Linked DNA regions of Homo sapiens: region 1 is linked to region 2. Evidence: fine-mapped expression QTL. A gene starts in region 2. The other region holds a variant in brackets. All regions are shown on one strand. Distances are between the middles of the regions.

What was found. PIP is the estimated chance that this variant, and not a neighbour inherited with it, causes the effect.
Region 1: its variant is the best candidate, but not a certain one, in a credible set for the expression of G2E3 in CD4 T cells (CEDAR, PIP 0.75).

Annotation. Positions count from the first base shown.
Region 1 is chr14:30,703,926-30,709,315 of GRCh38, reverse strand. It overlaps SCFD1 (sec1 family domain containing 1), which reads right to left. Exons shown (of 25, transcript NM_016106.4): 18 at 3,431-3,493; 19 at 1,251-1,326. Among named protein-coding and RNA genes, the nearest start is that of SCFD1, 84 kb to the right of the region's middle. The variant C/T (reference allele first, on the strand shown) is at 2,775.
Region 2 is chr14:30,556,173-30,561,562 of GRCh38, reverse strand. G2E3 (G2/M-phase specific E3 ubiquitin protein ligase) reads right to left here and starts at 2,405. Exons shown (of 15, transcript NM_017769.5): 1 at 2,291-2,405. G2E3-AS1 (G2E3 antisense RNA 1) reads left to right here. Exons shown (of 4, transcript NR_151720.1): 3 at 728-826. RefSeq lists an enhancer at 2,550-2,739.

The DNA of each region.
Region 1 (5,390 bases), 150 kb before region 2:
AGAAAAAAAGAAAAAGAAAAAAATAACTTATTAAACCACAAATAAAGATTAAGTATATAAAATACCACAAGCAAACATTATAAGAAAGAAAAGTGTGGAGGAAAGAAAAGATCTTGTTTTTTTCTGAATACAGGTAAATAAACAATATTCAGGTCTGAATAACTGATTCTTTTGATTTGGCCTTTAAAACCCTTCTCACTGCAAACTGAGTTTCTGTGTAAAATATTATCTCAGTTTTGCCTTAAAATATTCCAGTAAAAGTAAATAAAAAACACAAATGGGATAGATGAAACAAGAATGGATACTGACTTAATTGAAGGATTCAGGAGAGTTTGATAATGCATATTTGAAAATTTCCAAAATTAAAAGTAAAAAACAAATCTTTTGAAAAGATACCAAATTAATAATGACTGAAGCAGAATATCTATATATTAGAATAGAAAAATCACAGAAACAAAAAAGTCATTTAAAAGTGTCCTATATACAAAATGAAGGACTAAAAGAAAGAAAATGCGAAATCGAGGTACAATTTTATTATCCCCAAATATAAATTCTATTTAAAATATTTTGTTTAGTCCAATTTACATAGGACTTTAGATATGAAGTTCATTAGCTTATTAATATTCTCTGATTATATGTTAAAAGAAATGATATTCATTATGTAACAGTTCACTATTCTAAATAGGTTAGGTTCATTCTTTCAATTAACGTACTTTCAACAACCTGATGGTAAATACAAATCAAAATGTAAGTAAAGTCCAAATCCAAATGAACAATTTTTTTTTAAAAAAGTATAAAATTACAGAGCTCTGAGCTACACATGTAAAAAATACCCTCAGAGTCTTAAATACACTAATAAAGAACTCCTTGATTTCTAACTCAGGAACAGAAAACCAAATACCACATGGGAGCTCAACAATGAGAACACATGGACACAGGGAGAGGAACAACACACATCGGGGCCTGTAGGAGGCCGGGAGAGCAATAGGGAAGTGAGCTAATGGATGCTGGGCTTAATACCTAGGTGATGGGCTGATCTGTGCAGCAAACCACCAAGGCACACATTTACCTATGTAACAAACCAGCACACCCTGCACATGTACCCCAGAACTTAAAAAAAAAGGAACTCCTTGATTTTATGATTCCTATTTATTACTTGAATAAATCCAGGAGTTGCTTTACCTGAGCAGTTAGCCTGTCAACATTTATGTTTAAAAGTTACCAGTATGTTTTCTAACAAGTGTACTTACTTGCTGTTTCAAAACCAGGTTCTTCACTCCTTCCATCACAAACTGTGATCCTGTATTCATGACTCGTGATAAAAGACTAGGTAGGGGCAAAAGAGAAGGACCATTCTAAGTACAAAGTGCCTCTCCAATCTGTTATCGATAAAATATTTACCTGATTACACACCACATGCTGATGCTCGCTGTACCTACCACCTTTGTTTTCACTAAACAGAAGGGTCTTGAGAATTTCTGCTGCCATGGGTATCACAGCTGCAATTTTATTTAACAATAAAATAGTAATTAAAATACTCTGATTAGTCAATAATTATTAAAAAATACAAAAATAAAGAGCTGCCCTCAAAATAAACATCTTAATTTCCTAGTCTTAGCTATATTTTTTTTTTGCGAGTTATAATTTGAAGAGAATTCCTTGCCTTCCTGATTGTCTAATGCTAAAAAAAACCAATTTAAAGCTAGTAACTTGGACAATTTGCTTTAGGAGTTCAAACCATATGAACATATTGAAAATATATATGCAAGTATTACGAGTAAGTCAAACATTACTGTGTTCTCTTTTATCAGCAGCTGGATCCAATTCTACATTGTATATTTTCTCTCCTCTCTATACATAAAATCTATCATAAAAAAATGTGAAACAGAACAGACTTAGCGAATTTTGCCTCAACTCTGAGAATGTTGTCTACATTTTAAACAACAACAACAAAACACCAATAAGTGACTTGCCATACTGGGTTTATATCTGTGGTTCAAACAGTCTCTCACATGGAATTAAAAGATGTTTTGTGGGACAGATTAGTAATCCTGCATTAAAATCTCAGAAGGCTAGGGACAGCTTTCAGATCACCCAAGAGCTTCTTATAACATATTTATCAAAATCCCAATTGTAAAATCATAAGAACTCTAATAGGCTAATGTTCAATAAGATTTTTAAGGGATGAAACTGAAAAGTCTATTTTATTAAACACATGGAAGTAATTTTCCAAAAATATTTTCCTTTTCCTCATCTTGCCTTACTCCCCTCTGAAATGAAGAGATGGACAGGATGGAAATCTTTTCATTAACAGAAGCAAGAGAAAGTAATCCTTGTTGGAATGAATGGCCCTGGAGCGATTCCTGTCACCAGGCAACTCTGTGGGGGTGTGCTAACCTGCGCAGCACTGTCTGAAGGTGAGGCCAGCTGGATTCCTTTTGCCAAGTACTTATAAGGCTGAGTGCTTTTGTTTTTGGAAATTATTTCATTAAAACCAGTTACTCAGTGTGGGGCTAGGATAAACCTGTTCTCCTCTGGCTTCCTGCTTTTGTTTTAGCTCTAAAAAGTAAGCTAGGAATTGGAAACTGTATGGTACCAAAAAGAGTAGTCAGAATTACCTTGTTCAGTTTCTCTGAAAATCACACATACTCCACTGGGGTCTCTGGAGTAAGATGTCATACCTAGCCCTGAGGACTTCCTATCATTTAGCACTGCTTGAATCTATCCTGAAGCCAGGCCTAGCTTCAAGTCTATATTAGTTATCAACATTGGTA[C/T]TAAAACAGTTTTAACCTTCAAATGTTTTCTGAAAATGAAAACTATGTTATAATAACAAACAAGCATATGAATAAAAACCATCGAGAAGACAATATTTGTTGTAGAAAATTTGGAAAATAAAGAAAAGTACCCCAAAGAAAAAAACTATACCCCTTGGAATTACCCACTATTAACATTTAGGTGTATATCATTTCAGCTATGCAATTAAATGTATGTATGTGTTTACTCATCCACACAGATACACACAGATGGATAAATGGATAAATAGGGATGATACTATAAAAAATGTTATCTAAGTTTCAGCTCATACCATGTAAAAGACATTAACTTACATTTTAAAGTGAGAATCTGAATGTGCCCAACACTAAAAAATGATAAATGTTTGAGGTGATATGCTAATTACTCTGATTGGATAATTACACATGGTATGTATTAGCACACTGTACCCCATAAATATGTACAATTATTAAATGTCAATGAAAAATAAGTTAAAAAATAGAAAAAAAAAACCAGGAGAACTTCAGCCATCTAAATGTCACCAAAGGCATGGTGACATTTTCCGCATTCAAAGTATCAGACATTGTGTTTTTAAGGCATGAAAGTCTAAGTAAGGTTTTGAGTACAAAGATGCAAAAGAATTATTAAAAATACTTACCCCATTGGTTTAGTGGTAGTGCTGCCATAGCTGGCCGGAGCTGAGGCCATCTTGGTAAAAGCCCTATGAAAGAAGGAAGTTGTACTTAAAAGCTAATTATTAGAACTAACTCTGGGTGTCACGGTATTAAAATATCTACTGACTAACTCTAACTTCTATGATGCAGACATTTTCTGAAAAGAGAATTTTTCAACGAATACAAGTACACTACAATTAGTACTAAAACACTGAATTATTATTATTATTTTTTGAGACAAGATCTCACTCTGTCACCCAGGCTGGAATGCAGTGGTGCCATCATGGCTCACTGCAGCCTTGACCTCCCAGGCTCAAGTGATCCTCCCAACTTGGCCTCCCAAAGTGCTGGGATTACAGGTGTGAGCCACTGCGCCCAGCCTGAAATTCTTAAAGAAGCACAAATGCATTAGTTTTCCAAACTTCCTATTTTTCTTCATTTCTATCTGATCATTTAAATAAAAAGAACTGATGTAGAGACTTGATGGCTTAAAAGAACAACCATGTAATAATTTAGTCTTTTTATTGTTTCCTACATTCTATGCTCCCTTGTTTCCAGGTACATGCCTTTGCTCATGCTGTCCTTTAGGGAGTATAAATTCACTACCTTCTTCAATAGAAACTGTACATTTCCTTTTAAGACTAAGTTCAAAACCACTTTCTTTGTTAACACTTCTAACTCTACCACTCAATGATTTTTCCCTTTAGTTATATTATATACCACAGATTTTACACTTAATTGCATACAGTTGTTTATTTTCAACTCTTTCTAAATGTCCAGAATCTCTGTAACTAAACAATACGATTGATGAAGGATGGGCAGAAAGATGGCATTTAGATGTGCCTTAAAAAATATTTTTATTCTGAGAGTATTTTCACTGTAGAGAATCCAGAAAATATAAAATGCTCCCAGAAGAATCCTACCACTTTGAGGTAACCCCTGTTAAGATGTTGGTGTATAGTCTTCTAATCTTAGGACATATGCCTATTTAACATATATGATTTAAAAACCAAAATTAGCATCATATTGTATACACTGTTTTATAACACATTTTAGTGGCACACCATAGACATTTTATGCCAGTCAGTATTCTTTCATAATGATTCTTATTTTAAATGCTTTGTAACTGGGAAAAAAAGAGTACCTAAAGAAAATTTTATAAGGGAAAAAAATGTAAATCACTAAGATGTGGTAGTAGAAATGCTAAAAATATTCAATTTCAATCTTGACAAAATGTGCCAACAATACCCTTAGAGAAATCCCAAACAAAAATTTCAGTCTTGTTCAGAAAGGATGATGTGAATCAGCAGTGGATTAGAATTTCTGCATTAACAACAACAACAAAAAATAGTTTTTCACTAGAAACAATATCTAAACAACAAAGAAGGGTTAAATAAATAACAGTATATTTATATGATTTAATATTAGGCAAACAGTAAATACTTCCATGAACTGGCATGATGAAAGTTATTAAGAACTAGAATACAAAACTGTATCTCTAAAAATGATTTCCCAGTTTTAAAAAATATCTGGCTGGGTGCAGTGGTGCACACCTGTAGTCCTAGCTACTAAGGAGGCTGAAATGGAAGGATCATGAGCCCAGGACTGTGAGGTTACAGTGAGCTATGATTGTATCACTGCACTCCAGCCTGAGTGGCAGAGCAAGACCTTGTCTCTAGAAAAAAAATCTGTCATATGTATAAACAATGAAAGAATATACACTAATGTTTACTTGTAGTGCAGACATGATGCCACAATGAGAAAATTCCACACTGACCTCTTGTCAGGTTGCAGTCCAAATGCACAACTTAAGAATATTGATAAAATTACCTTTAGGCTATGCATATGAGACAATAATTGATTTTTTGTTTAGACTTGGGTCCCATCCCCAAGATATCTCATTATTTATATATATATATATATATATATATATATATATATATA
Region 2 (5,390 bases):
AATTCTAGTAGTATTGATAGAACATCAGCAGGTTGGAAGAGACTGGTGTAATATTATGAAGATGGTCCTTGGGAAGAGAAGTTGGTACCAGACTCTGAAGGGCTCTGTAAATAAAAAGCAAAGCTAAGAAATTTGAATTATATATGGTAGACAATGAGAAGCCATCAGAGATACTTATGGAGCAACATCTGGAGGGAGACTGAAGAGAGGCAAGAAATATTACTTTTTTAAAAAAGCATAAACTTTTGAGTTAAATCTAATTTCCGACTTCAGTTCCAACGTGTTACTAGTTGTGTGAGAACAAATTACCGAGCCCCTCTTAGCCTGTTTTCTTATTTGAAGATAGTAACTACCTCAGCGATATTGTAAAGATTAATGAGAGAATGTATGTGATGCGGTTTTTACAGTTTAGTAACTCAATGTAATTGGAGACTTATGTATCATTTGCTATGTGGCACACACTATTTTAAGGTCTTTGTATATATTAACTCATTCAATCCTCACAATAATCCTACAAAGTAGGTAACCTCATCATACGGTAGAGGGAAATGAAGCAGAGAGGTTAAACAGCTTGCCCAGGGTCACCTAGCTATCAAGTGGTGGAGATGGGCTTCAAACCAAGGCAATCTGGCCCCAGTTCCATGTCTTTAATCAACACATTATAATGCCTTTCTAGGAAAGATCAAATCAGTGTTTTGAAAACTCACAGTATTTTCTAACCTTTCAGTTAAATATGCAGACTGTTCAATGCCATCCTCCAGACCTACTGATTCAGAATCTGAGATCTGAAGTGCAGGAATCAGCATTGTTGAACAAATCCTTCAAGGTAGTGTATACACAATAAATTCTGAAACTCACTGATTTAAGAAAGAGCAAAAATCCAATGAAAATAATTCAGGTAGAAAAAAATAAAGAGATTAGGATATAGCGATCAATTTTTAAAAATTACCATTTGTTGACAGCACATATGAAATGAGCAGAAAGGCTTAGAGAAGTATAGCCAATGTCTCTGTTACAAAGACACTATATGAAAAATGCTCATATTTTAACTATCCTAAACACCGAGTATTTAAGTCTATTCTTCCTGGCTAACACTTAAAAGTTCAATAGCAGGAAGAATGGGGGTGCTGGAATAGCCAGCACTGGATGAAGGAATGTTTTTATTCTGATTATTATGAAGTCCTACTTTTAAAAATATATTTATACATTTAAATGGTACAATATCCTGGTGTTAAAACCTTAAAAGGAACTTAAAATATCTTTTCGTATTAAGCTACACAAAACTGACGATTTTTAATAAAGATGTAAAACTTGTACACATTTAAAGTTCCCATTTATAGTTTACATTTATGGCACACTTTTAAACCATTCCAGAAGGCATGACTTTACTACTGGGTTAGACAGAGTTCCATATTTCAGATAGTTCATCATTAAAAATTAAAAAAAAAAAAGCCCAAAACAATAAAACCCAAAGAAACAGATGCTCAAAGCATTAGTGGATTACTTCCAAAAAGACTCCATAATAACCCAGTTGGCCAATGAATGAGGGAGGCGAAAAGGCAGGGCGGTGGAACTAAACCTTATCCCTATTGTTTGCAAACTAAGACCCTAGTTAATCACCACCGCTGTTACCACAGCCGGTTTAAATAGGAGTCTCGGATTTTTGCGGTACATGAAAAATGTCAACCGTGAAAGAAAAATATCCGGGTTTTAAATACAAAGGACACTCGAATTTCAGTTTAAATCCCACTCAGGCATTTCAAAGACTGTCACTTCCCTGCAGTCCAGAGTTAATCAAGGTTGCCCGGGTATCTCTCTCAGGAGGAACGCGGAGCCACGTAGAGCATCTTTTCATTCTAAACCCGCCCCAACCTTCCATCTTTCATTAAAAGAGATTTGTTTAAACGTGGCAACGCCTTCACAGTGAGATTTAACTACTGTTAAAATTTCAGCATTCGAGCCGAATTGGTGGAAATAATAAACTACGGGTTTAAAAAAAGCCACGGAGGATGCGTATAAACAAGGTTTACTCGCGGGGGACCGGCAGGGCCTCCGAATCCTCAACACTGAGAGCTGGCTGGCGTGCGCAACCGTCGAGAGCGCTGGTCCAGCAAACGCCCCCAGTGCCCCGAATTCCCTTAGTCTCCAGGCCGGGCCCCAGCACCAGACGTCCCCAAAAGCACTGCGAGGCCCCGGCTGCGACGTCCGGCCTCCTGACACCCTCTCCCACCCCACGGTCCTGCTTCTCTCTCTGGAACGTTCTGCGTCTTCCCGTTCCCCATTTACTCACCAAGGAGAGCTGGGCAGAAGTTCCAGAGCCTCAGTGCCACTTTTCCCGGCCCGCTGTACGTCGGGGCACGCCGACCGCGAGCAGCCACATTCAACGGCCCACAGGATTCAAATTCGTCCACTTCCGCTCGCAAACCCGGAAAGAGCGGTCGGCCCCGCCCTCGAGGGGTGGGACCCGCGGAGGCGCTGGCTGTGGGGAAGGGCCCGTGTGCTCCCGCCCTTCTGGCGCTCCTGCGCTGCTGCTCGGTGCTAACCTGGCTGTGTCGCCTTCGCTTGTTTGTTTTGTCGGGTCTCTCTCCCTATTTAGGAGCTCAGAAAAACTCCGGGCGCGGGGTCATTGTTTCCGCCTATTTGCTCTTGAGGGGATCCTCTTTTTTCCAAAATGGACAGAGATGTGCTGAAGTTTCGTCACCTTCGAGGAATGGGGCGAATGAAAGCACGAACGGAGGCAGGAGGGTTTTATCTTTCCCTTCATCCTCGAGGAAACAGCAGCAGCAGCAAGAAGGAAAAAAACAAACCCTCCAAGTACTTAGTGCAGCCTTTCCTGGGCCTCTCAGTCCTATCCCGGCACAGTCAGGGCTTTTAATTTATTTCTGTCCTGGGTTTAGGGAAAACAAAAAGCCAAGTTCACCCGTATTCAGCCAAAAGTTGAAAATAAGTGGTCGGACCAATTCCTGGTCTCAAATAAACTATTTGATGGTGTTAGAAGGCAATAAATTTTATTTCCCCCCTCAGATAAGGGCTCACTTTACGAGATTATTAAGTATTGTCCCGTGAGATTATTGAAACAACAGTATCTTTTCCTTTATCGAGGACCACAGTATGTCTTTGATCCAAAACGTCTTAAGCTTCTGAAGAGACATCTGGGAGCTTCCAGAAACTAAAGGAAGGACTGGAAATGCTAGGGGGTGAGGGGCGCTAAATAACTCTGACCTTTATGGCTGTGATTGATGTTGCCACCAGATCATCCTCACATCTAATAACATTGAATTACCTAAACGGATCAGTACAAACCAAACCATGACAGCATACCTTTAGCCTTTGTCAAAAATACAGTTTGAGGGCCGGGCGCGGTGGCTCACGCCTGTAATCCCAGCACTTTGGTAGGCCGAGGCGGGTGGATCACGAGGTCAGGAGATCGAGACCATCCTGGCTAACATGGTGAAACCCCGTCTCTACTAAATGTACAAAAAATTAGCTGGGCGTGATGGCAGGCGCCTGTAGTCCCAGCTACTCGGGAGGCTGAGGCAGGAGAATGGTGTGAACCCGGGAGACGGAGCTTGCAGTGAGCAGAAATTGCGCCACTGCACTCCAGCCTGGGCGACAGAGCGAGGCTCTGTCTCAAAAAAAAAAAAAAAAAAAAAAAAAAAATACAGTTTGAAAGGTTTACTAGATTTCTGAGAACCTATGCTACAGGTAATCTGACACAGGGGGTGTGTAAAGCTATTAACTGATGTACTGTTTTTAACAGTGGAAGATAGAAAATAATCTGTGTCTACAAATAAGGAAGGGGTTAAATACATGTAAGTTATGATACTTTAGCATCTGATATACTGACGCTGCGGGCACTAAAAGTAATGAAGTAGATCAGCGGGTACTGAAATGAAATACTGAAAAAGTTTAAGAAGGACTGTAGTATCCTTGTTTGAAAGTATGTGTGTGTATATGGTATACAAAGTTTTGGGATGGATACCTAAGCTGTAAACATCTCTGGGAGCGGGCTGGTAAATAAGAGTAGGAAGAGATGGAGAACTTTTACCTTTCACTTTATCACCAGTTGAATTTTTAAGATAATAAACTTTTTTTTTAATTTTGCAATTTTGTTCTTTAAGGAAGATTGCTAGAAATTGAATACATTCTAGATACAAAATCAGGTTTAATGAGCGTATAAATTTCTAATGTTTGGATAGTCTATGTCCATTCATTCATTCAACAGTTCTTTCTACAATTACATATAATGATTTGACCACACATTTTGTCATTCATGATATAGTGTATTATTTTATGTTTACATATCTAATATGACCCCGTTAAATATATTGCTCCTTGAAGTTTCTTGAAGGCAGAAACTATGTTATATATTTTCCTATGTCTTTCATAATTCTTGGCACCTTCCCACCATTCTTATCCTTCACAGGAATTAAATTCTCAAGTTGACCTGTATACAAAAGTTAAAAATGCCCTGGAAAAGCCACCCAAAAGATTATATATATATATATGATTTTCTTTATACAACTCTATGAGCAAGGTTTTGTGTTTTTTTTTTTTTTTTTCAGTTTGTCCCCTGAGTTCTCCTTGGTCAGTTCTTCTCTACAACCCTTAATTAATTCTTCAATTTCTTCCGCTAAAATGTTGTCAAAGTCATTATCACCCCGCAGCCTGGCCATCACTTGGAATAATGAGATTCAGTTCTCATCAGTGGTGGAGAGCCCTGTAAAGTCATTCACATTTTTTTCCATAAGATTAGCCAGGCTTAATTGTATTAATTGTCTAGGGTTGGTGTTCACTGAATGGACTATCTGGTTATCTGTACTAATTAAAATGTTGTTCTTTTTTTTTCACCCAGAGTGAGTATAGGTGATTTTGAATACAAACAATATTCAAGTAATGTTACAGCATTTTGTGAACAAAAAAGATCTTCAATAAATACCCACTGACTAAATCAAAGAGCCTGAGTACATACAACTTAAGGACTTCTTTGAGACGGAGTCTCTCTCTGTCGCCCAGGCTGGAATGCAGTGGCGTGATCTCTGCTCACTGCAAGCTCCGCCTCCTGAGTTTATGCCATTCTCCTGCCTCAGCCTCCCAAAGTGCTGGGATTACAGGCGTGAGCCACCGCGCCCGGCCACAATTTAAGGACTTTTGAAAGAAAATATTCATTGCAGGACGTACTTAAATCTAACAAACCTGGCCATCAGACCAGGCATTCTGAGAGCTTATAAACATTTTAAATTGAGTGAAATTGATATAAGTATTCCACTTAATACATGCTGCAAAAAATGAAGAATAAAATTAAGAATTTTATTCAGTCTCTGATAATCCCTCAGTAATGTGAACTAGCTGAGAACTGAATTCTTAGAAAATTTTAGTCATAGCTAATG